4 separate regions of the Homo sapiens genome follow, and all the other regions are linked to region 2. The links come from fine-mapping of genetic effects on gene expression. A gene starts in region 2. Each other region holds a variant in brackets. All regions are shown on one strand. Distances are from middle to middle. Region 1 overlaps MYO18A (myosin XVIIIA). Region 2 holds the start of MYO18A (myosin XVIIIA). Region 3 holds the start of LOC124903967 (a long non-coding RNA gene). Region 4 overlaps MYO18A (myosin XVIIIA).

The links. PIP is the estimated chance that this variant, and not a neighbour inherited with it, causes the effect.
Region 1: its variant is fine-mapped to the expression of MYO18A in whole blood (TOPMed, PIP above 0.99). The same link has a PIP of 0.9 or more in esophagus mucosa, sun-exposed skin, tibial nerve and unexposed skin.
Region 3: its variant is fine-mapped to the expression of MYO18A in whole blood (TOPMed, PIP above 0.99). The same link has a PIP of 0.9 or more in blood mononuclear cells.
Region 4: its variant is fine-mapped to the expression of MYO18A in whole blood (TOPMed, PIP above 0.99). The same link has a PIP of 0.9 or more in blood mononuclear cells and non-classical monocytes.

The regions. Positions count from the first base shown.
Region 1 is chr17:29,113,205-29,120,560 of GRCh38, forward strand. It overlaps MYO18A (myosin XVIIIA), which reads right to left. Exons shown (of 42, transcript NM_078471.4): 8 at 6,131-6,231; 9 at 5,173-5,236; 10 at 4,841-4,985; 11 at 3,240-3,251; 12 at 2,460-2,636; 13 at 2,147-2,237; 14 at 1,703-1,895; 15 at 807-893. Among named protein-coding and RNA genes, the nearest start is that of MYO18A, 64 kb to the right of the region's middle. RefSeq lists silencers at 3,967-4,261, 4,082-4,131. The variant C/T (reference allele first, on the strand shown) is at 4,622.
Region 2 is chr17:29,175,952-29,183,307 of GRCh38, forward strand. It overlaps MYO18A (myosin XVIIIA), which reads right to left and starts at 4,447. Exons shown (of 42, transcript NM_078471.4): 1 at 4,362-4,447. RefSeq lists silencers at 920-1,119, 4,121-4,170, 4,291-4,340, 4,306-4,526.
Region 3 is chr17:29,135,196-29,142,551 of GRCh38, forward strand. All of the region lies in intron 2 of MYO18A (myosin XVIIIA), which reads right to left. It overlaps LOC124903967 (a long non-coding RNA gene), which reads left to right and starts at 5,279. Exons shown (of 3, transcript XR_007065693.1): 1 at 5,279-5,331. RefSeq lists enhancers at 2,524-3,507, 3,508-4,491, 4,184-4,233, 5,434-5,523, 5,674-5,723 and a silencer at 4,924-4,973. The variant T/C (reference allele first, on the strand shown) is at 3,997.
Region 4 is chr17:29,122,979-29,130,334 of GRCh38, forward strand. The region is part of intron 2 of MYO18A (myosin XVIIIA); the gene reads right to left. Among named protein-coding and RNA genes, the nearest start is that of MYO18A, 54 kb to the right of the region's middle. RefSeq lists an enhancer at 4,499-5,034. The variant G/A (reference allele first, on the strand shown) is at 3,749.

The DNA of each region.
Region 1 (7,356 bases), 63 kb before region 2:
TCACTCTTTCGCAGCCCCACCACTTGTGCAAGCCAAGCAGGGCCTCATGGCAGAGAAGAGGGAGGGAGAGGTAGGGATCAAAGCAGAGCAGGGAGGTCGGCAGCCTCGCAAAAATGCCAGTTCTCCAATAAAGCACCTTATGCAATTTCCCTAATGGCGGACAATCGCCAAATGCCAAGAGTTTGCTAGGCCAGCCAGTCCCCCACCGAGTGCCAAGGTGCCCAGGACACTAGCACAAAGGGTGACAAAGCCTGCCCCCAAAGTTGAGGGGTGAGGGTTCATATCCATGACAGTCCCCCAGAGGGCGTCTGACAGCTTAGCACTGTTTCCCCTGGGAGCGGGAGGCTGGCTCCTGGCCCTGTTCTGTTAGGTTGCACCAGTCCTCTACTTGGGGACAATGGGAGGGAATGACTATGTCCTTGGGGTCTAGGCCCTCACCAGCTGGGACTGGTCACCAGGGCTCCTAGCAGACATACTGGAGGCTCAGCCAGTCACCAGCTGGGGCCCGAGCCTCAGCTGCTGAGAAAGGAGATATGCTTTCCTGCCTGACTGGGACCCCCATGGGCTGTGGCTCCCCAGGGCACCAGGGCAGAAGAAAGTGCCACCTTCCTGGCCAAGACTGCCTGAGTGCTGAGGGGCAGAGCCCCAGCACCAGAGAGTAGTTGGTGTCTGGGCATAGCTGCTGGACCCTCCCTCAGCCCACAGTGGCACCCCCAGCAGCAGCTCAGATGGGGAGGGCTCCACCACGGGGAGAGGGGTGGGGAACGAGAGGAAAGGCTTGCCCAAACCCTCTCTGGAGCTCCTACCAGGGACTGATGGGAGGCCTGGTCCACAGCAGCCACAGAGTCATCCGTCGGGGGTTCCAAGTCGTCAAACGCCAGCTCGATGTTCTCCTGGGAAAGAAGGCCGAGCGGTAGTGAGCATGGGGGTCACATTGTGGGGAACAGCCTTGTGAGTAGGCTGGGAAGGGGCTCTGAGATCAGCAAGGCCAACCTCCTTCTGTGCCGTGCAGGAGCTCCCTCCATCATCCCAAATGAAACAGCTCCCAAGGAAACACACTGTATTTTTTGCACAGCTAAAATTCTCAGAACCTCTTTTTATCCGAAGCCAGAGTCACATTCTCATTACTCACATGAGTTGATTAGGCAACACAGAACAAGCCCACTCTCAATTTCACACAATCATCCTTGAAACACTTGAAGACAACTGCCATTTTCCTTCTGAATCCTCTCTCGCCCCAAATAAATATCCTGACAATTCACTCAACTCACTTCCAGATGAGGCAGGATTTCCAGTTCTCGTCCCATCCGGGACACCCTTTTACAGAAGGCACTAAATCATCACCTGGCACCCTCACAGATCAGGGAAGGGAGACGGGAAGGCCAGGCCCAGACACACTTGGAGCAGGAACCACACAGTGGCAATCACCAGGCCTGGGAGGTGCCTCAAAAGAGGCCAAGGGTAGCCTCCTGGGGGCCCTCAATGCACCTGTAGGCTTCCTGGAGAGTAAACTCTCCACCAAGTAAGAACGTAGCCAAAGCCAGAGGCCACGGACAAGGGGGCAAGGAACGACTCCTGCTCCAGAGAGCGCAGGAGGACAGAAATGGAGAGTAAGGTGATGCCTTCTGCATCCACAGATGCCCTCGCTGTGGGTGCCAAGGCCAGAATCTGAGGCTAGATGAGGCCCAGGCCCCAGAGCTACCTCCTTGTATCTTTCCAACTCCTGCACGAAGGTGCGCTCGTGGAAGAGCCTCTGCAGCCGGTCTTGGGTGTAGTTGTGGCACAGCTCCTCAAAGGAGGCTCCGCGGGCTGACCCACCCTGCTCAGGGTTCTGGAAGCCCGGGGTGTCGACAATCATCATGGAGCAGAGTGAGTGCTGGCTGGACTTGAGAGCCCTGGATAGGGACAGCCTGGGTCAGAGCCTCGCTGGTTGGCCCCGGGCACCAGGAAGCCCCACCCTGCCCAAGCCAGACCTCTATCCCTGCCCAGGACCCTGGTGGGGAGGGCATGCTGGCCTTGCTCATAGCCCATGGGACAGGGAGCCCCTGCTGGAAGAGACCGGCTCTGCCTCGGCCAACAAGGCATGAAGGCATCTACTCCACCTCTGCCAAAGCAGGAAAAGCCCTGGGTCCTGCCTGGCACTCACCTATTCACCAGGGAGACGAGAAGGGTGAAGAGCTCGCTGTAGAGGCCGGCCGCCATGCCCTCAAGGCACTCCAGTGCACTCAGTTTCGGGCCTGTGGGGCAGGGGGAGCAGCGCTATCTCCTTCTCCCCAGGGCTCCCCATCTGGGTAAGCCCCTGACCTGCCCAGGGCCCAGTCAGCACGGGGCCTGGGGCAGGGCCTCTGCCACTGACAGAGCATCTGTTCACTCCAGCAGTCCCCTCCCGCCCCAGGGATGGCAGCAAGCCCCAGATGAGGCCTCACACTCACAACTACCAGCCAAGGGACAAAGGGTACCTGTCCCATCTCCCAGGCCACTCTCCTCGGGGCCCTGGCGGAAGGAGGTGGAGCGCTGCAGGGTGCCACCCTTGTGCTGGTGCTTGAAGATGGCTGAGGACAGCTCCTCCAGGCTGCAGCCCAGTAGGTACGCAGCCTTCTGGGCCCACTCATGGCGGGCAAACTGCTTGCGCCCAGCTGTGGAGTGGAAAAAGGGATCTGGCATCCTGGGTCTTTTTCCTTAGGCCAGCTGATGACCTGATGACCAGCTGATGACTATGCATCTTCTGGAGGCAAAAGCCAGCCCTGATGACACCCGATGGGCTTCAGGCAGAACAGGGGCAGCCAGCAGTGGCCAGCATTTCCTGTGTCCCGTGGGGATGGAGAGAATGAGCAGGTCCTAAAGGAGGAGGTAACTCCACATGCTGCCACCGGAGGGCAACAAACCAGCTGCAAAAATCCCTTTTCAGATGGCTCAGCTCCGGGGATGCCCAACTAGGGGAAGGGCGGAGTCAGAGGATGAACCAGCCCACCTGGGATGGGCACAAGAACCCCGTGTGCCTGTGGGGGACTTATCTTGAGAGATCGCTCATGCCTCCACATTCCCTGAGTACATTAGAACCCTCCCTCTTGCCCCCTGGCATCTGCCAGTGGAGACCACAAACACCCACTGATGGCCCAACAGTGGGGAGGCAAAAAAGCCACAGGGGAAAGGGAACAGCCCGCACAGACATATGTGCCTCAGCCAACATGTGTCTAATCACGGCAATTAGGGAAAGCTAACAAGAAACAAGGTTTTACCTTCAGCAGCTTCTGTAAGGCAAAGGACCAGCATGCAGCATGCAAAGAAAAACAGTGTGTTAGCAAACAGTCATCAATAGAGCTCGCCGCCTCGGAGGGACCGTGGGGCGGGGGTGTTGTGAGGATGAGTAGGCAAGAAAACACAACCACAGTCAGACTTGGGACAAACGCACACACACACAGTCTCCAGGGAGTATGTTTGTGGGTGTAATCACACTGACACACACAGAAAGAGACCCGCAAAGACATTTGTGCACATGTGTGTGTGCGCAAACACACCCTCCCCCCCCCCCCCCCCCCCCGCCGGAAAACACTGGAAGCTCTGAGGCGCTAACAGACATTGTTTGAGAAGATCGCTGTGCTGACACCCGGAGCTTTCCGCTTGCAGTTGGGGCTGGGTAGGTTAGAGGAAAGCTAGGCTTGTCACCGCCTCAGAGTGAAGTAACTTCCCTCAACACACAGCCACACGCCTGCCCGCCTGTCTGTCCTCCACATTCTCGAGAAAACTTCTCTAACCTAGAGCCTGGCTCCTCCTGGGCAGGGATGCCACTTCTTGGGGTCGCTCGCATGGAGCCTCACGCCTGGGCACCCATTCCTCCATACACCCACCACCTGCCAGGACTTTCTCACTCCAGCTGAGCAGCCTGGGGCCCTTCACATCCCAGAAGGGGCCAAAGCCAAAGCCCAAGGTGCTGTTCAGCGCCAGCATCCCCTTTCCCTAAACTGGAGAAAAAGGGGGTGAAGAGGTGCTCGAATCGCCATCCTCCAACGTAAGTCATCTTGAAGGATGGAGCAGAGCTCCTCCAAGCCAGGCCAAGTCCCCGAGCGCAAGTGCCAAAGCTGCAGCCCATTCGTTACCACGGTGCCTGCTGCCCCCTAGTGGCCGCCACCCTGACATGCAAGAGGAAGATACGGAGCTACCCAACCAGTGGAGAAGGGAAGAGGACTGGGGAAAACTGGTCTGGGGAGGCCCCAGGTAGCAAGCCCACCCTACCCCACCCCACGGTGGGCATCCTGAGAGGTTCCAGGATTCAGATCTAAAACTGGCAGGAGAAGCAGCTACTCCTGGGACTCTAAGACACCCCACAGCCTGCAGGCTCCACTTCCACTCTCAACCTCCAGGCTTCTCCCCAGACCAGTCCTCTCTGCAGCAACAGAACAAGCCCAGCCCCTAGAAAGTCCTGGGCAAGCACCAAGACAGGGCACGGCGGCCCCTATACCCAAGGGCGGGGCCAAGGTCAGTTACCCGCTTGCTCCTCGGGGGCCTCTGTCAGGAAGGGAACAAGAAGGAGAGTTATTCCAGCGGGGCTGCCCTGCCTTAGTGCCCTTCTCATCCCTCAGCCTCTGAACCCCCAGCCCTCCATGCTTCCTCATGGTGCCCC[C/T]CAGCACAGCCAGCTAAGTCCAGGCCTCGGGTCGTCACTGCCAAAGATGCTTCCCGGGCCTTCTGCTCTGAAGTGGGGGGCTGAGAAGAGGCACAAGCAAAAGAGGGTTGTCTCAGAACGGCTAAGTCTGTGCTGGGCAAGAATAAACTGGGAGTGGGCAGGGTCCCTGTGAGGTCACCCAGGGGACAGGCCAGCCTACTGGGACCCACTGCAGGTTACCTTTGGTGGCTCCCGCAGCCCCCAGGTGGTAGATGGCAGCCAGAATGAACCAGCAGGCCTTCTGTTCATCGGGGGAGATGCCCAGCACCTTCATGGCCGCCTGCAGCTTACTAAACTGCTGAGCTGCCTTCTGCTTTTCCTCAGGCTGTGGAGATAGATGACCTCAAAGGGCTGTCCCTCCCAGCACACCCCCATGAGGCTGGGCCCTCAGGGCAAGGCTTGGGTAGAGCCAGCAGCTGGAGCTGGGCTCCCACTATTCCCACAGGACCCATGGAGGCTTCTCCTACCCCCAAGGCCCAGGGCTGGCAACCCAGACCCCACAGACCCCTCACCTTGGCCAGTGGCACAATCCCAAACACATTGTTCTCTGCCAAGTGGTTGAGGTGGAGCTCTGTCCTAGGGGTACAAATAAGGCATCAGCACGGCACTTGGTCCCCATGCCAAGGCCATTTCCGCCCAGGGTGGAGACAGACAGACTCAGCTTCCAGACTCCAAGTTTTGTCTGCCCATCATCCCATCATCCCCAACTGGCGGGCCAGCTGTCACTGCTTTCCTAACTGGCCTGGATGCCTGGTTAGAGTACCATTCTCCTGAGGACAAGCCACCAGACATGCCCTGGTGAGAGGATGCAACCTGGCCCCCGGAAGGGAGCAGGGAACCTGCCCGAAGGGTGAGTCCCGCCAAGGCAGAGACGATGCCCTCAGTTACAAGAAGGGCTAAAGAGGACAATGGCCTGGGGATGCTGGCTCAGCCTCATCATTTATCTCTTTTTAGTGAACACACGCGGCAAATCTGAATGTCTGAAGGGAAGAGCGTGGCAGAGGCAGCCAACGTGGGGCAGGAAGGGCTAGTCTGGAGGGCACTGGAAGAGGCATGGGCTTTTGGCCCCAGTGTGGATTCAAATACCAGTTCAGCCCCCTACCAGTCATGCGACAGTAGGCAAGTCCCCAACCACTGGTACCTCAGTGTGCTTTGCTTTCCAGAACTGGCTTCATGGGTAATGGAGATCCTAGCTAGGCCCTGGCAACACTGAAGGGCTGGCTGTTCCCCTCCAATACAGCCAGGCCCCAGTACCCAGGACCAGGGAGTTCTTGATAGGCAGGGACTATGTCTCATCCATCTCACTGTCCCTGGGGCCTAGCTCAGAGCCTAGCACATAGCAGACATGCACTGACCAAACAGTGCAGGATGCGATCAAGTGGCTTTAATTCTGGATGCAATCAAGGTCCAGGAGCCCAGTCAGTGGGCTGGAGTTCAGAGAACCCTTGTGTACCCTCTGACCCATCTCACCTGAGGGTGCCATCCCCACAGGCCAGCAGGTAGTAGAAGACGTTGAATGTGGCTTCACTGGCTGGGCGCCGAGCCACACGCAGCTTCTCCAGAAGCATTGTCTGTGACACAGCATGGACGTGTGGGTAAGGAGGGTAGTGCCAGATCAAGTTTCTCCCACCCCACATAAGAAGGAATCAAACACATGGTCCTCTAGGCCCTGGGGAACAAGCAGCTGCATTTTTTTTTTTTTTTTTTTTTAAGATTTGAGATGGAGTCTCACTCTGTCACTCAGGCTGGAGTGCAGTGGAGCGATCTTGGCTCACTGCAACTTCTGCCTCCTGGGTTTAAGCAATTCTCCTGCCTTGGCCTCCTGAGTAGCTGGGATTACAGGCATGCACCACCATACCCGGCTGATTTTTGTGTTTTTAGTAGAGATGGGGTTTTGCCATGTTGGCCAGGCTGTTCTTGAGCTCCTGACCTCAGGTGATCCACCCACCTCAGCCTCCCGAAGTGCTGGGATTACAGGCGTGAGCCACCGCACCCAACCTGCATCTTGTTTTTTAAGTCTTTTTTTTTTAAGATAGGGTCTCGCTCTGTTGCCCAGGCTGGAGTGCAGTGGCGCAATCACAGCTCGCTGCAGCCTTAACCTCCCAGGTTCAAGTGACCCTCCCATTTCAGCCTCCCAAGTAGCTGGGACCACAGGCGTGCACTACCACATCTGGCTCAATTAAGCAGGTGCATCTTATTCCCAAGGTGCTCAATCAGATACCAGATCCCTCTAGGATCAAATGGGGGACAGAAACCAGAATGAGGTGGAAGAAGACAGGCCCAGCTCCCAAAGGGGCCCTGCTGCTCTGCCCAGACCCCAGGTGCCTGCCTTCTGGAAATGGGAGCTTGTGGTGAGGTATTTAGCATGGGAGGGAATCAGCCTTGGCTGGGCCTTACTTTACTGACAAGCCAGTCCTCTGCTAGGTGAAATCGGCCCGAGAGAAGCCCCGAGCATGAATCTCAGAAAGTGGGAAGTAAGGCTGAGGCCCAGCAGTAGAGTTAGGACAACCCCAGGGTTGGGAGAGTGAAGGGAACTGGGCAGAAAGCTGGACTGGCCCCATCCAGGGCAGGAGGCCCTGAGGGCAGAATGGTGATGCCTCTGGATAGTGCAGGCCAACCCTGCCCATGCCTGGGTCAATTTTGTTAGGGTAGAATCCCAGGAAAATGAGGCATGGGAGAGAGCCTGATGTCTAGGT
Region 2 (7,356 bases):
GGGAGGCTGAGGCAGAGAATTGCTTGAACCCCGGAGGCGGAGGTTGCAGTGAGCCAAGATTGCGCCACTGCACTCCAGCCTGGGTGACAGAGCGAGACTCCTTCTCAAAAAAAACAGCAGTCTGGAAAAATTCGATCCAAAAATTTATCAGTGGTCATCTCTGGAGAGTAGGGGAGAAGAAGGGTAACACTTTAGTAACGCTTTAGCTTTCTACCTAATGATTCAACTTTTTTCCAGACTAAAAAAAAATGGACAAACTAGTAGGCAATCCACCAGCAGTAAAGCTGCAAACAGGGTAATGGTCAGTTTAAGGATTGCCTTCATGTCTTGAAAAAGTTTCAGTGGCTTGGGGGACTTGGTTAAAATAGAGTTCACTGGTGTCTTGTGGCTGTAAGTGGGGACACATTTAAATGGGTCACCTAGCAGCTGGCAAAAGAAAAAAAAAACCCAGGAAATGGAAACTATAACGTTAGAGTCCCAAGACAAGGGTGCCCAGAGTTGGCTGTGGTGGATAGATACTTAGGTCAGTCCTCCCACCCCCACCCCCAGACCACACTCATAAATAAATACAAAGGAAATACTTTCCCGAGAGAGCCGGCCTCTCTCCCTTGGCCTCTGACCTCCCTGAGCGGCCGTTTCCTCCAGCCCCGGGACCCCGGCTCTCTCCCCGCGCTCTGCCCCTCGCCAAGGGTTGTAGCAGCGGCCGGAGGGGTAGCCAGCACCTGGCCTGGCCCCGTGCTCCAGGGGGAGCCTCCTCCCGGCCGGCTGTGCTGAGCTCCGCAGCGCCGGGTGACTCCCTGCCAGGTCACACGGAGCTTATCTGGCTCCAGGTGTGCTCCCTCACGCCGACTGCACGCTTCTCACGTGACATTAGCCAGCCCTCACGCCGCCGCGCGGGGAGCCGGGCGGCCCTTGGCGTTTCCCCGCGGCTGGGCCGGCGCAGCCGCAGCCCCGCGGCGCCTCCCGCTGCGATCCCATCTCCCCCGGAAGGCAGCAATCCCGCGGGCCATGGAGGAACGCGAGCGGGAGAGCTCCTGCGGCCTCGCCAGGTTCCCTGCTGCTCTTCCAGGTGCACCGCCTGGCGCTCAGTTCCGCTAACATCCCCTTCCGTGTGACCTTGAGCAAGTCCCCTCCCCTCTCTAAGCCTCCACTATTTCAGCTACAGTTATCTTCAAGGGCCTGACAGCTCAGATTTGGCCCTCAGCCTCTGCTGGAGAGCTATTCTGCTCAACCACACACTGCAGGTTGTAATCCCGCTCTGCCTCTGACTTGCTGTGTGACCTTCAGCCCATCATCCAACCTCTCTGAATATTAGAGAATAATCACAATAATCTCTTGTAAGTGATGATAAACTACTTGGCAGACAGAAAGGGCCCTGGGTCCTGTAAAATCATCAGTCTAACAACCAAAACTGCTGCCTGACTCTAAACTGTTTAAAATGTCAAGGGAAATTGACATTTTACAAGCCCTGCAATTCCTACCTCAAAAGAAGGGCAGGGAAGTGAAGGTGGGAAGTGGAGGCTCACCAGGTCTGCTCACCACCCCTCCCAATCCAGCTCCTACCTCGGCACCTCCCCAACTCCTCTAATTCAGGCCACCTTGGAAAATGCTAGGGGGAAGAAATGGTGATGGGGTGGGGTGTGCAGATCTTAAAGCACCCGGGGGTCTGACCCAAAGCAGAACTTAAACTCCATCAAGCTGCCCTACCAATCCCAAGTCCTGTGGGAACCTGTCAATTACAGCAGACAGTGGGCTGGGCCCTCCTACTGCCCCAAACCTTTAAACTACAACCAGCCAGAGCCCCTCAGTTTTCCCACCACACTCAGGCCTGGGACCCCAGGCCACCAACAAAACCCAGCTCACGTGGATGCTCTGGCTCCTGCCTGTGGCGTCCACCCCAGGTGAGAGGATCTGGCTGAGGAGAGACCTCTGGTTTGAAGGATTAAGAACAGCCCTGCTGCCCTGAAGACCTGTGACACAGCAAGTCCAGATGAAGGCTTCCTGAGTTCCAACAACTCCCAGCTCCACCTCAGCAGGGTGGATTCTCCCTTTCACATGAGCCCCAGTTCTGCCCCACCCAGTCCACCTTTAGGTACCTGCCTCTGGGGGACCCAGAGTTTTCAGGCCCAGTTTCTGAAGACACATGCAGTCCTCAATGAATAGCCACTACCAGGGCCAGTGAGGGGGCCTCCAGGGAACTGGCTGGCTACCCAGACAGCCCAGGAGTGAGGCTGAGAGACCAGGTGGGAGTCAGGAAGGGCATAACCCACATGAGGAAAGTCTGGGGCGCAGGAGGAAGCCCTCAGGCACACACTCTGGCACCTGGGCCAGGCCAGGAGAGAGTAAACAAACTAGACACTCAGAGCTACCAGGCACCAGGTCATCAACTGTTCAAAGTTCAAAGCTCCCAAAGGAAGTGACCGCCAGCCTGTGGCCCCTCCCATGCCCACCCTCCACCCCCACCTACAACCCTTCTCATTCCCCTAATCCCTCAACACAATAGCTGCCCCCAAAGCCATGGTTTTCCTGGAATTGAGGCCACAACCCCCATGTCCTCAACCCAAAATGGACAAGCACACCTCCACCCGAGGCTATATATAACCCGTCATGTCAAATCCAGAAACCAGGAGGATGTTTCCTGGAAAGACTTCATCACAAAAAAACAGAGAGGAAGCTGAGGAGGTGGGAAGCCATGGACAAAGAGCCAGTGAGGCTTGTCAGGAAGCCAGAGACCTCAGGAGAGCAACTTTCAATATCTCCAGATAGAAAGTAGCCCCTGAACTAAAAAGGGTGGGGAACATTAGGCCAGGCCTGTTGCCACAACAACAGGGCACCAACCTGCTCAAGAAAAGGGCTCCAAAGCACAAGGGAAAGGCGGCTGATTCAATGGGCTCTGTACTCACCGTCCTGCTCAGGTGATCTTGCTCTTAATCACCCAGGTGGCCTCCCCTCCCTTCCAGCACACCCCAGTGCATACACACTTCCCAGAGCTCACTTGCCACAGGGGCACTGATGAGGCCTTCTCGGCCACAGACACGCCAGGGGCTCCAAAAGACAAGACGAACCCACACTAACTAGCCCAAGTCATTGGCAGGGTGAAGCAGGGAGGGAATCCAATTCTTTAATTCGGGGTGGCCATCTGAGGGAATGAAAGCCCTAGCCAGGACAGTCCCTCTCAGGAAGCATTCCCCCAGCCCTCCCCACACAAATACAAACTATGAGGCCAGCGCCAAACACATGCCCCATTGGCAAAGTGGTCAGGCAAAATGAATACCCGCTCAAAAACAAACTGGCTGTCTTCCTCCCCATCTCCCCCACCCCCCACCTCTAGCTCATTCTGGCCGCAACCTTTCCAACTAATCAGCAAGACACATGTGCCTTGCAGTAGGGCAACTCCCCCATCTCCACCCCCAAAACAAAGCCCCAATGCCTGGCCTGTCCCTGCGGGCCTTATCGCACCCAGGAACATGACCCACACTCCTGGCCGGGTTTGGGACCAAGGAGCGCACCCCCACTAACAAGGGGCAGGGTGAGGGGGCAGCCACCCCTACCACCTCCCCTTCCCATTGGCGAAACAACTGGCATGACAGGTTAGCAGGGCGGGGCGTCGGGGCGGTCTCTCCAGAGGCCTGGGGCAGCTTGTCCGACCTTCCCACACGCACCCCACCCCTCTGCAGGGAAAGGTGAGGTGAGCATTCAGTCTCAGGGCACAGCCTGCACTCCCTAATCCCCAAAGCCTGCCACCATTCACCCTCTCATCTTCTGTCCCAAGAGGAGGGGGCCCAGGGAAGCGGGGTCTCCATTGTTTTGCCAGCTGTCTAGCAGCTGCTCCTTTGAGAGGAGCCCGCAGTCTGCCCGGCAGTGAAAGAGTGAAGGCCGCTGGGAGGGATAAAAGGGTCGGTAGAGGTGCTCCCCTTCCCCGCTGCCTTCCTCAGCGCCCCGCTCTCTCGCTCGCTCCATCGTGGGGCCTGGACGGGGGCAGGAGAAGTCCCCCCACCCTCGAGGCTGCAGCCCCCACCCCGCAGCTCCGGGCCACCTGGGCGCCTCCAAGCCCCAAATCCCCCCACACTGAAGGCCACCCTGTCCTGCCTCCCTGCGCCCCCCAGGTTGGCTGGAAGGGCCGGTGGTTCCCCCTTCCCCGCCGCTCCCGATCGGCCCCCACCCCCGGGCGTCGAGCTCCACGGCGCCGCCAGGGACGGGAGCCGGGAGTCCGGGCCGCTGCTTCCAGGGGACGGGGGAGGAGGAGGAGGAGCCGGCGGGCCCCGCCGCCCGCCCGCCCTCCCTCCCGGCCGGAGCCCGCCCCGCCGCCCCACCAAGCCGGGCCCGCCACCGAGCGGCCGCCGCCGCCGACCGGCACTCACCGGCCACCGGAGCCCGCCCGGCAGGCAGCAGAAGCGGAGACGCGGCATCCAGCAGCCTCGGCCCGGTCAGGGATGGAGCAGAGCGCAGCGCGGCGCAGCTCAGCGCCGCCCCCAGCGACCGCGCAGGCCGAGCCGAAAGGGAGCTCCCTGCTGGCGGCTGTGGGGATAAACGCCCGGCCTGCCTGGCAGCGCCAGTGCGCGCCGCCAGACGTGGGCCAGGCGGGCCGGGCGCTGCCCTGGCAGCCTCCGTCCGCTGTGGACTCCGAAGCCCCTCTCGCTGTGTCTGAGAGAGGCCCTGCCTGGAGTTTCTGTCTGCACTGGGCACTGGAGGCTGTCCGAAAAGGGTCCGAAAGGGGCTGAGTGGCACTGCCTAGGACAGGCACCAGGGTCATGATGAACGTATAGAAGAGGGGCTGTCCAAGGCAGGCACCGAACTCTGCAGGCTGTGTTCAAGGTAGTGCTGTCTAAAGGAAGCAATTAAGTCTTACTGGCCGCCTCCTCCCAAGGTGGCTCTGCAGAGGCACACACAGGGCCCTGCTGGATGGTGCCCCAGGCTCAGTCCAGACCAGGTACTGCCTGCCATGTCCGAGATGGCACTGCCAGAATGCACTCCCCAAGGTAAAAACAGACTCCCAATAGCTTGGTCTGATACAGCCCTGCCTCAAAATGGAGTGGATCAAGAGGCGTACCAGGGCCCGGGAGCCATGGCTGTAAGTGCCACTCACTCCCTAAAGGAGTTCACCAATGCCAAGATTAACACTTTCAGAAGCTCTTTGGAATGCAGTCTGTCCCTGGGTCCACTGTGTGCTGTAAATATCAAGTGAGCTGCTGTACCCACCAAGAAGACAGTTTATACTTCCTGGGAGAGGCCAAGGGACATCCAGATACCAGGCCTCCAAGATAGGTGCTATGTCTAGAGTTTGGAGAAAGAAAGAAATGGGGACACTTCCCTGGGCAGTGTCCATGCTGGAGTGGGGTGTGCCAGAATGTGGAAGAAACTGAGTGGGGTGGTGCAGGAAGAAGGGTGTAGCAGACAAATGCTGCTACCTCCCTAGACAGCCCAAACAGGAACTTCTCCAGGCAAGGGCAGCCCAACCTGACAGACCAGGGAAGGCTGGAGCAAGGAGGCTCAGAAAGCAGAGAGTTGAGTAAGAGTTAGGGAGTTCCTGAGGAATAGACCCAGGCGGGATACACATTTTGGAATAACATGCAACTCAAATTCAATTTAACAAACTGCCTGCTAAGTGCCAAGTGCAGCCCCAGGCACTTGGGGTGACACAGAAGGAGATCAGACATGGCATATCTCCAGGGAAATCACATGGGGAACAGGTAGACCTGAGCTGTGACAGTAGTAGGGTTCACCATGCTGGCATTACTTGGATGATGAGATAGGTGCTATGATGGGAGGCTTATTTGGCTTGAGGAGTGAGAAGAGCAGCTTCAAAAACATGACATTTGAGGCCAGGCATGGTGGCTTATGCCTGTAATCCCAGCACTTTGGGAGGCTGAGGTGGGCAGATCACTTGAGGCCAGCGTTCAAGACCAGCCTGGCCAACATGGCGAAACCCCATCACTACTACAAATACAAAAAATTAACCAGGCGTGGTAGTGCATGTCTATAATCCCAGCTACTTGGGAGGCTGAGGCAGGAGAATCTCTTGAACCTGGGGAGCAGAGGTTGCAGTGAGCGGAGATTACACCACTGTACTTCAGCCTGGGCGACAGAGCAAGACTCTGTCTCCAAAAAAGAAAAAAAAAAAACCCCAAAAACATGACATTTGAGCGGAACCTTGCAGGCTAAGTAGGACAACGACTATCATTAGTGTTTCCTGAGTACCTATTATATACTAGACACTATCTCTACTCCTCACAATGAACCTATGAGGGAGACATTATTATTATAGATAGGGGTTGAGTGCATGGACTCTGGAGCTGGATTGCCTGGATTCAAAATCTCAGTTCTGTAAAGTACTAGCTGTGTTACTCTGGGTGATTTTTTATAAATCACCTCTCTGTGCTTCACTTTGCTCATCCAAAAAATTGGGATAATAACAGTGACTCCCTCCCTCAAAATTTGTTTTGAAAATTATATAAGCTTAGTCTTTTCAACACATGGGGCTTTTCAACAAACTGGACATCCACATGCAAAAAAAAAAAAAGGGGGGGGTCTAGACACAGACTTTATACCCTTCACAAAAATTAACTCAGAATAGATTATATACCTAAATGTAAAACACAAAACTATAAAACTGTCTCCTAGAGGATAACATAGGAGAAAACCTAGATGACCTTGAGTATCACAATGACTCTTTAGATACAACACCAAAGGCACCATAAAAGAAAGAGCTGATAAGCTGGGCTTCATTAAAATTAAAAATGTCTGCTCTGCAAAAGACTGTCAAGAGAATGAGAAGACAAGCCACAACTGGGATAAAATATATGCAAAAGACATCTGATAAAGGATTGTTATCCAAAATACGCAGAGTTTTAAAAACTCAACAATAAGAAAATGAACCACCCAATTTAGAAATGGGCAAAAAACCTGATCAGACACCTTACCAAAGAAGATATACAGATAGCAGTAAGCAAAAGAAAAGATATTCAACACTGTATATCATTAGAGAATAGCAAATTAAAGCCAGGTGCGGTGGCTCACGCCTGTAATCCCAGCACTTTGGGAGGCTGAGGCAGGTGTGTCATGAGATCAGGAGCTCGAGACCATCCTGGCTAACATGGTGAAACCCCGTCTCTACTAAAAATATGCAAAAGACATCTGATAAAGGACTGTTATCCAAAATATGCAAAGAGTTTTAAAAACTCAACAATAAGAAAACCACCCAATTTAGAAATGGGTAAAAAACCTGATCAGACACCTTACCAAAGAAGATATACAGATAGTAGTAAGCAAAAGAAAAGATACTCAACATTGTATGTCACTAGAGAATAGCAAATTAAAGCCAGGTGCAGTGGCTCACGCCTGTAATCCCAGCACTTT
Region 3 (7,356 bases), 41 kb before region 2:
GTTCACGCCATTCTCCTGCCTCAGCCTCCCGAGTAGCTGGGACTACAGGTGTCCACCACCATGCCCAGCTAATTTTTTGTATTTTTTTAGTAGAGGCAGGGTTTCACCGTGTGAGCCAGGATGGTCTTCATCTCCTGACCTCGTGATCCACCCGCCTTGGCCTCCCAAAGTGCTGGGATTACAGAGGTGAGCCACCGCGCCCGGCCAAGAACTGGTTCATTCTTAAAACTGCTTATCATGAATAATAGTTAAAAATTAGGAAATGTTTTGTTTTCAATTAATTATTTCTATTTTGCTTTGTTGACTTCTGTTTTATTATTCAGTTAATGTGCTAGAGACTTTAAGTTTGTCTGTTGGTGTAATTTTAACTCGTTTGATCTTTGATCTCTTGTTCAAGTTTTCCTACTTGTCTATAGAGGTCCCATCTGGCCCAGGCTGTGAGGACACCGGGCCATTTCCACCCAGGCCTGTTCCTCTGCATCAGCTGTTCCTATGAGCTTCACTCTGAACACAGATGTGGGGCTCTCCCCAGAGGAAATTCTCTCTGTGGCTTTTATGCAGAATTGCCTAGACAGTTTTCCTCTCTCCCTTATCACTGAATTTGTTTAGGATCAAGAGCAAGTTATCCTGGAACTGGATTGTTTATAACCCAAAGGATAAATGCTTGAGGGGGTAGAGACCCCATTGTCCATTGCCCAAGCACATGCTTGTTTCTCAATGCATGCCCATATCAAAACAAAACATCTCATGGACCGGGCGTGGTGGCTCACGCCTGTAATCCCAGAACTTTGGGAGGCTGAGGTGGGTGGATTACTTGAGCTCAGGAGTTTGAGACCAGCCTGGGCAACACGATGAATCCTTGTCTCTACCAAAAACACAAAAAATTAACTGGGAACGATGGTGCATGCCTGTGGTCCCAGGTACTGGGGAGGCTGAGGTGGGAGGATCGCTTGAGCCTGGGAGGCAGAGGTTGTAGTGAGCAGAGATCGCAATACTGCATGCTCCAGCCTGGGTGACCGAGTGAGACCCCATCTCAAAAGAAAAAAAAAAAAAAAATATATATATATATATATATATATGTAATGTATCCCATAAGTACATAAACCTACCATGTACCCACAAAAATTAAAAAAAAAAAAGATCAAGTTACTGTTATCCAAGACAGAATGGGTAAGGAACTCAGGCCCCAAAGGTGGTGGCAGCATATGTGTTGGGAACATATGGCTCTCTGGAGCAAGGGTGTTTAGATCTAAGGCCTCTCTTCCTTGACTTGTTCTCTCTCTAGAGATTTCAGCCATTTCCAGCAACATTACTGAATATGGAGCACCTACAATGAGATGGGCCCTATACAAGATATTGAACATTTATTTTCTAATGTAAATCTTACAACAATCTGAGGATTGGTGATATGGGAATTATTATTATTCCCATTTTATCGAGGAGGGAAAAGATTCAGAAAGAGATTAAGTCACAAAGTTAGTTAAGTGGGGGAACCCAGACTTGAACCCACACTGGTCTGCCTCCAAAGCCTGTGCTGCTTCCTCAGTGCCCACCTTTTCTGGTATGTTAGGCAGGCATCAGCTTTGGTAGCCAAATCTGGTTGATAAACTTCATCGGCGTGAAGGTTCAGAAGATCTGGTCAAGCCAAAGCATGGATTGATAGTGTGTTTTACTAGTGTGCAACTCTCCAAATCGAGTTTTTGGATGTGCAAAAAGGGAGACCCCACCATGATTCTGCCACTCTGCAGGTCTACCCACCTCCTCCCTCTGTGGCACTTCTGAGGGACAGCAAGAGAGACCAAAACTCACTGAACACTTACTATGAGCCAGGCACAGGGGAAGGCACTTCATACAGGTCTCCTCATTGAATCCTCATAACAACACACTTTCTAGATAAGGAAATAAAGAAGGTGAATTGCCGAGAGCGCTGCAACTATTAAGTGGCAGAGCTGGGAGCCACAACCAGAATGTATCTTGGGGAGCTGTTTGTGCGTCTTTGTCATCCCTGGACTGTGATTCACCTCTGAGCAGAACTTACCCATCTTACTCATCATACTGTAGGCGCTTAATAAATGTTAGCTGCACGAGAGTGCTGGGACAGGGGTTCTTTGCACAAACCTCTTATTCCCATCTAATCTCTTCCCCAAATATAAACTACAGAGAACAACACTTGCCCATTCTGATTCCCAGGGACATGGTACAAACAAGGGAGGTATAATCTCTAAACCTGCTCACAATAAATACATAGTGAACTCAATGCCTGGGTTTGCAGGGAGGGCAAGGACACTGAAATTGCTTAGTAGCTCTTCGTGAACAATAGCCACAAAATGCATCATCCTCTGGCCTACCCATTCCATCTTCAGGAATGTATGTCCAGTGAGCTGACTTAAAGAAAGAAAAAGAAAAAAAACGCAAAGATTTTTATAGATGCACTCTATATAACAGCTCCAAATTGGAAAGAGCCCAAATGCCTAGAATTAAGAAATGGTTAGGTACAACCCGTTGTTGTATTGCCATTTAAACTGACAAATGTGTGGACAATGTAACCATATGGAAAGCTCCATATAAAATGACATCAATCAAAAAAACTGGAACCCAAATAGTATACAAACAGTGATCATAATAATCTTGTAAACTGTGTGAATTAGACACAACATGAACACCTGGTATTTATTTTGGTATGTATTTGTTACTTACTGCTTATTTTTATTGTGAAGATGGCTAAATAGTCAAAAAAAAAGCAAAGGAGATAATAGCTAGAAGCATTTGTTCTCAAAGAGGAGAAATCCAAGAAATGTACTGAGGGACTGTCAAGCCTCAGCCCCAGGAGGCTTCTGACACTCTGGGAGCAGCTGGGGTTTACCCTCCACCATGCCAGCAGAGCCTACCCGCCCTTAACCTGCACTCTCTGGGCCCCTCACAGGAGGGAATGGGGGCACAAATGCTCCTGGGAGAATAATGCCACGCCTCAGGCAGCCCCTCAGGCCTGGAATGCCTGGCCTGGACAAATGCTTTGAGGCCCAAGCATCCACACCAGACATCTGCACACTGCAAGCCCCCGAGAGCAGCAGGTAACTCTCAAGAGAGTGCCCAAAGGAAGCTGAGACGTAGCTGGTGGCCGAGGTCACTTTCCCGCCTCGCCGCTTCTGACAGCACTCACACACCGGAGGCTTCTCCTTCTGAGGACCAAGAGGCAGGGCATTCTCCTCTCCTCCCTCTTTCCCATTCAGAGGCACAGAGGGCAGCTCCCAGGAGACTTCTTCCTCCCAGTCCCAACCTAGCACCAACTTATCTAGGGATTGAGGGCGAGGAAGGGTGGCAGGAACAAAGGAGAAGGGAAGAAATACTAGCATAATAGTAAAAAACGGTTAATCATTATTGAGCATTTGGTATGTGTCAGGTGCTGTGCTGAATCCCTCACATGAATCATCTCATTTGATCCTCACAACATCCCTCTGAAATAGATACTAGTGTGACTGTGTGACTGCTACTTTACAAATGAGCAAAAGGAGGCTCAGAAGGTCAGGTGACTCGCCCAAAGCCTCACAGCAGCAAGTGGCAGATCTGGGACTCACACTCAGGTCTCCTGCGAGAGCCCTCCACTGCTCACTTTAAGGGATGGAGGCACGCCCTGCCCTCCATTTCCCCTGGTTCACCTGCACTGTTGTCCTTCTACATCAGCTGCCAGAAGAGCAGCTTGGGAGGAAAGCAGGGGTTCCCAATGATGACCCGCCCCTCCACCCACCAACCTGAATATGCTTTACGTGGAACTGCTTGAGAGGAAGGGAAGCTCTCTAAGGAATGAACTGAAGGCCATGCTGCCAGACAGCGGGGGAGGGGGAGATGAGCTTGGCAGGGACAACCTGGCCCTTGCAGTCCAGCCTCCAGCCAGAGCCCTCCCCAGCCCCAGGGCGGAACAGAAAGCAGCCGGGCACCCGCCTCACTGCAGGCCAGCCCAGAGGAAGCAGGTGCACTGGAATGGCTTCCTGCCGCAAC[T/C]GCAGTTGCAGAAGGGTCTTGGTTTCCTCCTCCAACGACTGAACCTGCTGGAGGCCCCCCTTCCCTGGGGATGCTCACTGCCCCTCTGGAGGGCACTTTGCTGTCTGCTTGGATATCACTGTGCATGGCCCTAAATCTGTGACCTGGTGCTAGTGGCCCGGGGGTGGCTGGGGGAGAGTACCCTAGACCAGGAAGCGCCCATCTCTCAGGGTGAGGAGCTCTCTCTGACCTCTCCCCCACCCCCGGGCATACTGCCCACACAACTCAGCCCTGGTGCCAGTTTGGGGGCTGAGGCAGGGCAGTCCTGAGCACAGAGAGATACAAGTACTCACGGGTACATCTCAGGCTCCTGATGCACCTCCGCACCAGGCCAGCCCACGTACTCTGCCAACTGCTGACACAACTGAAAACCTTACCCTTGGTGGCTGGGAGGGGTAGAGTCAGGGGAACGGGAAGGACTGGGAGCAGCTATGTCTCTCCTCACTTTCTTTTTTAAGGAACTTACTTATCTGGAGTAATCTCTACTAAAAAAGAGACTTAGGGCCAGTCAGAGCATCCCCAACACGCCATCTGTGCCCCTTGCAAGTGTCCTATGCACAGAAATGGAGGTGGCCATGCTAAGACTACTCTTGGGGACAGCGAGAAGGGTGCTCCCTGACAACTCCAAGGACCATCCCCTCTCAAGGAGGAAGAGAGGAAAGAGCTATACCAGCAACAAAGCAGAGACAAGACTACCGAGGACCTTGGGTGCTGTGGGGCTGGGGCTTTGGAAGAAAACAGTGTTCTAAGGAATGAAGGCCAAAAAAGCACTAATGGTTGGTGGGGAAGGCGTGTCACAGCCTTGGGGGTGGATGCAACCCCAGGAAACTGAGGTTCAGAAGACAGTGCCCCTCCAAAACTCCTGAAGTCATGAGTCAGGCCCAGGATGCCCTGCTCCTAGCCACGGAGGGGTTTTGAGGCTTCCGGGGCTGAGTAACTCCCTTCTTACCAAGAAGCTCGGAGAGGAGCCCCAAGGCTGCCCCACCCCTCTCCCCACCTACTTCAGCCACATCTGGGGAAATCACAAAAAGGTCCCTCCTTTCCTAAATGAGGAAATAGCATGAGGAGCCTGGGACATTTCCGGGGTGGGGGGTCAGAGGGACACTCACCCGCATGGCCTGGCCTGGAGCAGCCCAGAGCAAGGAGACTCCGCTCTGATGCTGCTCTGGCTCCGTTAGCAGCTCAAAATAGCACAGGCTGTGGCCCCGCCCAGTTCCCGCCCTCTCCCCGGCCCCTCCCGTCCCGAGCTGCCCAGCCCTAGTTGGAGCCAGCAGCCCGGAGGACTTCGGGTATCAGGTATGCCAGGAGGGAGAGGGTGATACAGCAGTGTGTGTGGAAGGGAAGGAGAAGGCTCTTAGGGTAAAGCCATTGGGGTGGGGGGCAGGCAGTGTTAGGGGGTTAGGGCAAGGACAGGGAGGGTGAGACTTGCCTATGGACACACACCCCAGCTCCGGGACAGCTGGGCTGATATGGCTCCTAAAAATAGCAGAGGAATTTGAGACCTGCAGCCCCCGGCCCCACAGGCCAAGCTTGAGACAAGCACATGCGCACTCATGTGCATGTACACGTATACACACACACACACACACACCAGCATGCACGAACATTCAATCAACACAGTGTTCTTGAGAACACCCAAATCATAGGCCTACCCTAGCCATCTAATTACTGCGGCAGAGGCCAAGACAGCCACTAACGTCACATCCAAGACAGCACACGGGGCCCACTGCACACTGTGCCCAAACAGCAGCCGCAAAGCAGTCCTGTAAGGTCTGGCAGGAGCAGAGACCCACACGGGCAGGCCCACTTACTGCCCCACTGCCATCAGCACACAGGGGACATGCAGAGAATCAATTACACTCTCTTTGTTTACATCCCTCTCCCCTCCACAGACGCCAGGGACTGCACAGGCAGAGAGGAGGGTGGGGTGGGCCTCAGCCCTGCAGACAGAGGAAGTCATGGGTGTCTAGCCAATGAGTGATGGCTGCCTGTGAAAAGCCAGTGTTTCTTGTGAAGAGAAATCCTGGCCTGGCTCTCCAGTTAGCACCATGGGATGCCTAGACCAGGACTAGGGACCCGCTGAGACGCTGAAATGGGAGCTGGAGAACAGAATGTCAAGGGGCCAAAAGACAGGGAGAGCAAGTCTCAGAAGCCGTCAGCTCTGCAGAAAAAAGGAAACAGTCATTGCCTCCCTCTTCCTCTTTAGGAAAAAAAAAAAATGGGGTGGGGGTGGTGCTAGGAAGCCCTGATACAGAACCGCCTCCTAACCAGTCTGGCATACACCCCATGCTTCTTGCCCCTGGCCAGCTCTAAGGGCCATTGGTTCTATACATTGTCTGACTTTCTCCATGAAAAGATTGGTAAGCACTGCCAGAGAGGATGGAAACCCAGCCCTGCCTCCTACCTGCCATGCGCTGTCCAAGTCTCACTGTCATATAGTCACATACACAGACTCTTAGGACACGGCGCTTGTGTCCTGCTCTCTAGGGAGTGGGATGTCCCCCCAGGGGAAGCATCTGGCCCTTCTGAAGCACGTGCAGTGTCACAGGTCTTCACATCTTCAGTGGCTACTTAGAACAATGGTGCCAGCCTCAGCTGCTCACTGAAATCCACTGGGGAACTTGAAAAAAATACTGATGCCTGGAGCCCACCCTTTCCCTCTCAGTTTCTGACATAATTGGTCTGGGAGCAGGGGCCTGGGCACTGGGATTTTTTTGTTTTTGTTTTTTTTTGAGACGGAGTCTCGCTCTGTCGCCCAGGCTGGAGTGCAGTGGCGTGATCTCGGCTCACTGCAAGCTCCGCCTCCCGGGTTCACGCCATTCTCCTGCCTCAGCCTCCCGAGTAGCTGGGACTACAGGCGCCTGCCACCATGCCCGGCTAATTTTTTGTATTTTTAGTAGAGACGGGGTTTCACCGTGGTCTCAATCTCCTGACCTCGTGATCCGCCCGCCTTGGCCTCCCAGAGTGCTGGAATTACAGGCGTGAGCCACTGCGCCTGGCTGGACACTGGGATTTTTTATTGATAAAAGCTCCCCAGGTGATTCTCACATGCAGCCAAGGCTGAGAACTGCAAGACTCTAAGGCCAGCATAAGGCCTAGCACAGAAATGTCCATTTGTTAAATGAATGAGTGAATGAATGAATGATTTAGCTGTGTGAACACAGGCAGGTGACTTAAATTTCCCTTATCTGTAAAATGAGGATTACACCTTTACTGACTCTTACCCAACCAGTATGAGACTGGTACATAATGTATGTGAAAGGGCTTTGGTTCTCCAAGTTCTCAGGCCAGCAGCGTGGGCATCCCCTGGGGACTTGTTGG
Region 4 (7,356 bases), 53 kb before region 2:
GGCCAGAGATATGGGGGTAGGGGCAGCCCTGCCCTGTCAAACACAGGGAGAGGCTTACACGTTATACAGATGGGCACAGGAGTGGTGTAAAGGGGCTAGAAGCCCCCAGAGGCCTCAGGAGGTCACCAACTCAGACATAAGCATTCATAGGTACTGACGGTGTGGGGCTGTCAAACCTGGCACCCTCTAAGAAGGACACTTGAACTGGGAAGAAACGGTGTCTGGGGGAGCTGGGGAAACAGACGAGGGACCCAGGGCCCATCGGGCTCCTCTTGTTGTGTGTGGGCGAAATGGCAGCAAGGTCATCCCGTGCCCCGGGTGGGGGATGGGCACCCCAGTGGCATGGACCCACCCTCAGGTTAGCCCGAGCCCCTACACTCTCGGAGGGCCCCAGCTGTGAGGCACAGTCAGCCTGAAACCTGAGGCCCAGGCATGGACACTGGCTGGGTCCTGACCCCCTGGGTGAGAAATCAGGAAAAGATAAGAAAACATAAGAAGTATGTTCTTTGTCACATTTCTTGGAGTTGAAAGTAAAGGAGACGTGGGCTCTCCTCTCAGGTTGGCTTCTGGCTTTAGACAGATCCCTCCAGTGCTGGACGGCCCTTCCCCAGATTGGAGTAGGAGGGCTGGGCTGCACCAGTGGCTCCCAGATCTCCGGGTTTCATGGACCCATGAAATAACTCTGAATAGGAGGATCACCACGTGGCTGGCCACATTTTGGTGTGTTAAGTGAGGACATTAAAAAGGCTAGTTCTTTATATTTGAAGAACTATAACTATAAAAATCATGGCCAGGTGCAGTGGCTCACACCTGTAATCACAGCACTTTGGGAGGCTGAGGTGGGTGGATCACGAGGTCAGGAGATCGAGACCATCCTGGCTAACACAGTGAAACCCTGTCTCCACTAAAAATACAAAAAATTAGCTGGGCATGGTGGCGGGCACCTGTAGTCCCAGCTACTTGGGAGGCTGAGGCAGGAGAATGGCGTGAACCCAGGAGGTGGAGCTTGCAGTGAGCCGAGATTGCGCCACTGCAGTTCAGCCTGGGCGACAGAGCGAGACTCCATCTCAAAAAAAAAAAAAATCATTACAATGTTGTATATATATATTTTTTCTCAAATCACATAAGACAGGGGAGACCTTTATGTTGAATAGACACCTTCTATGGGCCAGGTATTTGGGGACTGATGAATAAGGTGACATCATAGCCTGTAACTAACTCCCTTAAAGCTCATCTGAAAATGGGTTTCTCACATTGGCCAGGAGGTGGAGACAGAGAATGTCTCACGTTCAGGCATGGGCTGGGAAGAGGGCAGAGATTCTGCCTTTCCAGCTTTCTCTCTCCAGAGTGAGCAGAGTTGAAACACCTAGAACTCAACCAGGCCCCCCTTGGGCTCCAGTGGCTGAGAACCACATGCCACATGGGCCCAACTTGAAGGGCGACACTCGGTCTAGATGCTCCCCAGGGGCCTGACACAGAGCTGCACCATCTCAAGCTCCCGGCACTACCTCCCGCTGGGGTCCTCCCAGACACAGGGTGGGAGCCTGGAGGGGAAAGAGGCCTTACACTCCAGCAGGAGGCCCGAGCACAGACGCCAGCCCAGGTGCAGGCCAGTGGGGCTAGGTGGTCACTGGAGGGAGCGGAGGGCTCCTGAGTGGGGGGAGAGCACCCTACCTGGCTGTGGGCATGAGAGGCGGCCTCAGAGTCCAGCTACCGACAGCAAGCAAAGGAGAGAGAGAGAAGAAGGGTGAAGATAAGCAGACCACTGGCACGCCCCCTTCAGCAAGTGCTCCTGAGTCAAGTGGGCCGGCACTCTCTAGTTGTCCAAGGCTCGGGGTGAAGGTGGGGGAGCTTGGTGCCAGGACCTGGGACCTGGCCTGAGCAGGTGAACTGCACCCAGTCAAGGAGAGGCCAGGAAGGTGAAGAGACACTAGTGACCATCAGGCCTCTCAGAGGAGATGCTCCTCTAAGTCATTCCCGGTGGCCCGGGCAGGAGTCTGCCACTCTGCCTCTGGCCGCAGTCTCTCCTGGGCTGGCCATCCGGTCTATTCTGAATCAGGCTCCCTCTTCTGTGTGTCTACCAGGTCAGGCCACCTCACCACACCCAAGGCCTGGGCCCCCTGCCAGCCTCTTGCCTTATCTCCAGAGCATTTCTCAGCCTAGCTCCCCTGTGGCCACCAGCACAGAGCTGTTCCTTGCCTTCTAACACAGCCCAAGGGTGCCACTCCCTAGGCCAAGGGCTGTGTTCAGAGCTGTCGCCCTGCACCTCTCATAGAACACAGCTCCCAGCAGCTTGCAGTCTAGAATCTCTTCCTCAACCCCGACGTACCCTATAGCACTCCCACCTCTGCCAGCCAGGCACACCGACCCCATCTAGATCCAACCTGGGGACCACTTGACAGCTGCCCAAGAGCAAAGGCACTGTGGGCAAACCCTGTGGCCAGCCGTGACCTCTCTGGTTACTTAAAGCCCTGAAAAGCCTTTCTGGGGAGGAAGGCAAGTCAACCAGGACTTGGATGTTACCTGTTAGAAATCGGCAAGGAGTTATCAGGCCCCACCTGGGTCTAGAGAGCCAGGTCACCAAAAATAGCGACAGCAACCTTCCTTACCACCCGCCAGGCCCTGACACCAACACATGTCCTCGAGGCAGGACAATGTGGCCAGAGAAAGGGACTGGGCCCTGAGCGAGGAGGGGTGCCCTCCCACATGCACAGGACTTTGGGCTCTCTGGAGGAACCACTCTCCCCAGAGCACTTCTCTCATTTCTTTAAGAGAGAGCCCAACATGAGGGCCCACAGGCCGCCATGGAGCCATCTTCATGGTCAGCGCGCCTACAGACACACACAGGGTCCTGCCGCCAGCCTCAGGAAGAGGGCGGCCAGGGACTGGGACCCACACACAAGAGTGGCATTACAGAAGCTGTGAAGATCCTCTCCAGCCGCTGGTGGGCCTCTTCCACGGGGGTCAGCTGGACCTTGGCAGCTCCTGCCTAAAGGTTAAACCACTATTAGTCCCAGCCCAGAAATGGAGAGGCCACAGCATGCGGAGCTCCCAGCCCAGGAAGCCACTGGGACCCACTAGGGAAGGGGAGCAGCGCCAGGGAGCAAGCCGCGCGGCAATCTGAGTTTTTAAACCATCAGATTAGAAAAAAAAGAACAAGTGCCTGGGAGTTCTGGGGTTATTTCTTCCCACCTGCCTATCTTGAGCACCAAATGGCCCTATTATCCCACTTGCCCTCTGGACCCTTCCCCAGGCCCAGGTGACAGGTGGCTAAACTCCAGGTCAGGGCATGTCTCAGCTCCCATCTCCTCCCTTGTGAGAGGAGGAGGGACGGGGAGGAGGGACGGGGAGGAGGGAGGGGAGGGCAGCCGCCCGGGAACAGGACCACGACACTCCCCACCTGCTTATGGGTTCTCCAGAGCGACCAACAGTTCTGCCCATACCCTGCCCAAAATGCCCATGCCAGCTCCTCCCTGTGAGCAGGAACAGGCACTTCCCTGATTCACAGAGTGGGCCAGGTGGGTGGGGGAAGCGGCGGCTGGCTTTTCTCTAAGTGCTGCAATGCCCAGGAAGAATGGGGAGCAACAAGGCTCCCCAGGTCCCAGGAGGTAACAGTCAGGGAGGGCCTCAAGGCCTCTCAGGCTATTCCCCCATACCCTCCAGACCCCTCTCCTTCCAGCCAGAAGGAGCCTGCATGAGCACAGGGAAGTAGTGGCAAAACTTGATGCTCCTCTCCCACACCCTGGGA[G/A]GCCTCAGCAGGGTCCAAAAAAGGGAAGCTTGAAGAGAACTGTCCCCAACTCAGAGGCCAGCCAAGAAGGCAACACTTTCCAAGGGAAAGAGGCTGGACTGACCCTCCCTCCTGCTTCTCAGCCTCCTGCCCCACCCAGAGAACACTTTCTGGGAAGATAGGGTTGCCCCTATATCCCAAGGGGCCCACTGTACCCATCTGCCATCCAAGCACAGGGCTCCTCAAGAGTCCTGCTGCCAGATGGTCATGCTGGCCAGGCCTAAAGAAGGCAGTGATGGCAGTGAGGGCATCAATAACAACTGTTATTAGCACCACTATCAACGCTACCATTTATGGAGCACCCACCATGCCAGGGACCGGCTTGGAGCATTATCTGTATCATTTCTAATCTTCTGGTTACTTAAAACCCTTATTAACCCTTATTTGCAATTCCAAAATCCCAAAAGCCCCCCCAAACAAAATATTTTTCTTAACTATTTTGGCGGCAAAACCTGGCAGTTTATCCTCTATGCCCCTGTAGTGTGAATATTCATAGATTTTGCTTTGGAAATATTAATGTTTGTTACACGTTGTTGCTCATTATGTATACTGTATGGCACTAAAATACAAAGATTACTAATTTCCAAAATACTGCCACACCCAGGGTATCAGAGAAGAAATTTTGGACCTGTATTATCCCCACTCAACAGAGGAAGTCTGAGATGGGACTTTGCTGAGGTCCCAGGGGATGAGTGGCTGGGAATGCAAGCCCAGATCCCTGACTTGAGAAAACAGTCTTTCCTCCTGGAACTGATCTGCTGAGACTCTGATCCTCGGGTTTGGGTCTCAGGCCTCAAGCTGGCGCCATGTAGCTGGGGACCAGGCCCTGACTCCCTATGGCAAGGCCAACATGCTGCTTAGCAGTTTCCATCCCAGCCGCCAGGCCAGAGCCCAGGCAACTGCAGGGTCCGCATTGGGTTAGGGAAAGCCATGCAGCCCCTGCCGGCCATCAGCACACGACCCTGGGCCCAGCCTCTCGGTCATGCGGGGTTCGCTGAGGTCGCTTGGGGAAGCCGGCTGTGAGGGTGCCTGGCCCTTGAGCTAGGGTGGTGAGGGGCAGGAGCGGTTAGTGACACACTCTTGTACCTCCTGCTTCACACCAGGGACTGGTGACTTGGACTGCTGCTCTCCAGTGAGGTCTGACTTCGGGCCGGTGGAGCCTGGGGTCACCAGCTCTTCCGGTGGGGCTGGGGAGCGCTGCTTCTTTGGGGCTTCAGGCTTGGCTGGGGATCCTGCTTTCTCAGGGGAGTCTGCCCAGTCTGGGGAGCCTGGCTCCTGGCTGGAGGGCTTCTCCCCCTTCCCAGAAGACTGCTTGCCGCGGGCCTTGTGCTCCTTGCCCCTGCCCCGAGACATCAGGCTCCGCAGGCCCAGGGAGAGCTCATCCTTGGCTGCCTCCTTCTTCACTTCAGGCTTAGGCGGAGCAGGGGGAGGTGGGGGAGGGGGTGGCGGCTTGGGACTAGAAGCTGCCTTTTCTCCCCTCTTGCTTCGAGTCGGGTGCTCGGGGGACTTGACTCCTCTGCCTGGGGTCTCCTTGGCATTCCCAAGCTCCTCGCTGGGCAGCACCTTACTCACCACCTTCCTCACTGCATTTGCCACCCGCTTCCGGGACAGGCCCTGGGCCTCTTCGCTTAGGCCTTCTGCTGTGGCAGCTCCCGGGCCGTTCATGGCGAGTGTGGGTGCAGGGCTCCTGGCTCTCTGGGAAGTCTCTGGGGGTATCGGGCTGGTGGGAGGCTGAGGACTCCTAGATGGGCCACTGCCTTCCTTTGAGCTGCCCTCTAGCTACAGTCATACAAATACAGGTAGACATTAGCATCACCCCTGCAGCCCTGCCCATCCCATGCAGAGGGAATAAGAAGGTGTGACCTCACGCCCTGGAACAGATCTCCCATTCATCTACCAAGCAACACATGGCTCCACGAGGCTACCCCAGGAAGCCCACTTTCCATCTTACAAATAGGACAACTGCAGCTAAGAGTCTGGCTTCTTTCCCACAAAGCACAATCAGCACAATCAGGTACTACTGTCACCTGCTGTCTATCCCCAGACTTAGCATGGACCTGTGAGATGCCGGCACAGAGCGCCGAGAGGCCTATGAGGTGCTCTGGGGTTACTGGCTTTGTGTCAGGGCAGCAACCAAGTCCCATTCTAGGTGAGCCCACTGCCTCGCAGCCCAGACACAGCAGAGATGGAGCATGGACACAGCAGAGATGGAGCATGGAGAGGTCAAACAGCCGAGTCCCACCTCCATTCCTACCACCAATCCCAGGCCTAACTCCAGGGCGTCCTGACCTTTGTAGTCCTTGGTCCTTCCATCACCTGTTTTCCGGGCAGTCAGACCAAGAGCCTACCCATCCTGAAGGAAAAAATGATCAGGGAGCTCTTCCTGGCCCCAAGACATGCCAGGCCTCCTCCTCACAGCGTCCCTCGTCTGCGGCCACTGTCTGCCCTTCATCTATGTTCTCAAGCACTGAGGAGCCCAGCACGGGCCAGGAAGCTTCCACTTCAGCCTGCTTTCTGCCAGTCTCCTTGCAGTTTTCCTCCTGCAAACCTCTCAAGGGTTTGGAGACCCCCTAGTTCCCAGAGTGTGTATAGCCCTCAAGCAGCCTCAGCTCCAATCTTCCCTGGAGTGGACTGGTATACTCTAGCTGGTGTGCCCACCCTTCCCCCACACACTGGTGCTAACTGTCTGGGTCCCAAGGGACTGCCACTGGAAGGCCAGGCTGGCTAACGGCAGGATAGAGTTTCCCATAAAGCCAGCTCCATTGCCTGGGGAGCGTAAGGGCAACCTGGGTTCTCCTTGTTGGCCAAGCAGAGCTCTGTCACCAGCTGAGCTGTGCTTGAGTCCTTGTTACCCAAAACAATGATCTTGGTTCTAGAACACATATGGGCACTGGGCTCCGTGAAGGCCCACCTGCCCATGCTTGCTTGGATGCAGGAAGACGCTCACAGTAGGCGCACCTGGGAGCTGCTGCCTCTGGATGCCACAAGGAGAAGTTGCTCCACCTTTTGAGCAGAGCTGAGCCAAGGGCCTTAATCTAGGCCCTGGTTACAGGTTGGCTCCGCTGAAGGGATAGAGAGAGTAAGGGCTTGAAGGTGCCTCTTCCTCAACCTCTTAGGCCAAGAGTGCTCAATGGCATGCCAGGGCACTGCAGAGTTGGCCAGTGGCCCTAGCCACTGGATCCTACACTCCTCCCCTCCCTCTTCTGGCTTTCCTCCCATCCCCCTTCCATCATTAAGATGATGACGATGGGCCAGGTGTGGTGGCTCACGCCTGTAATCCTAGCACTTTGCGAGGCCAAGGCAGGGAGACTGCTTGAACTCAGGAGTTCAACACCAGCCTGGGCAACATGGTGAAACTGTTTCTACAAAAAATACAAAAAGTAGCCAGGCTTGATGGTGTGTGCCTATAGTCCCAGCTACGCTACTCAGGAGGCTGAGGTGGGAGGATGGCTTGAGCCTGGGAGGCAGAGGTTGCAATGAGCTGAGATGGCACCACTGCATTCCAGCCTGGGTGACAGAGTAAAACCCTGTCTCAAAAAAAAAAAAAAAAAAAAAAAAGAAAAGAAAAT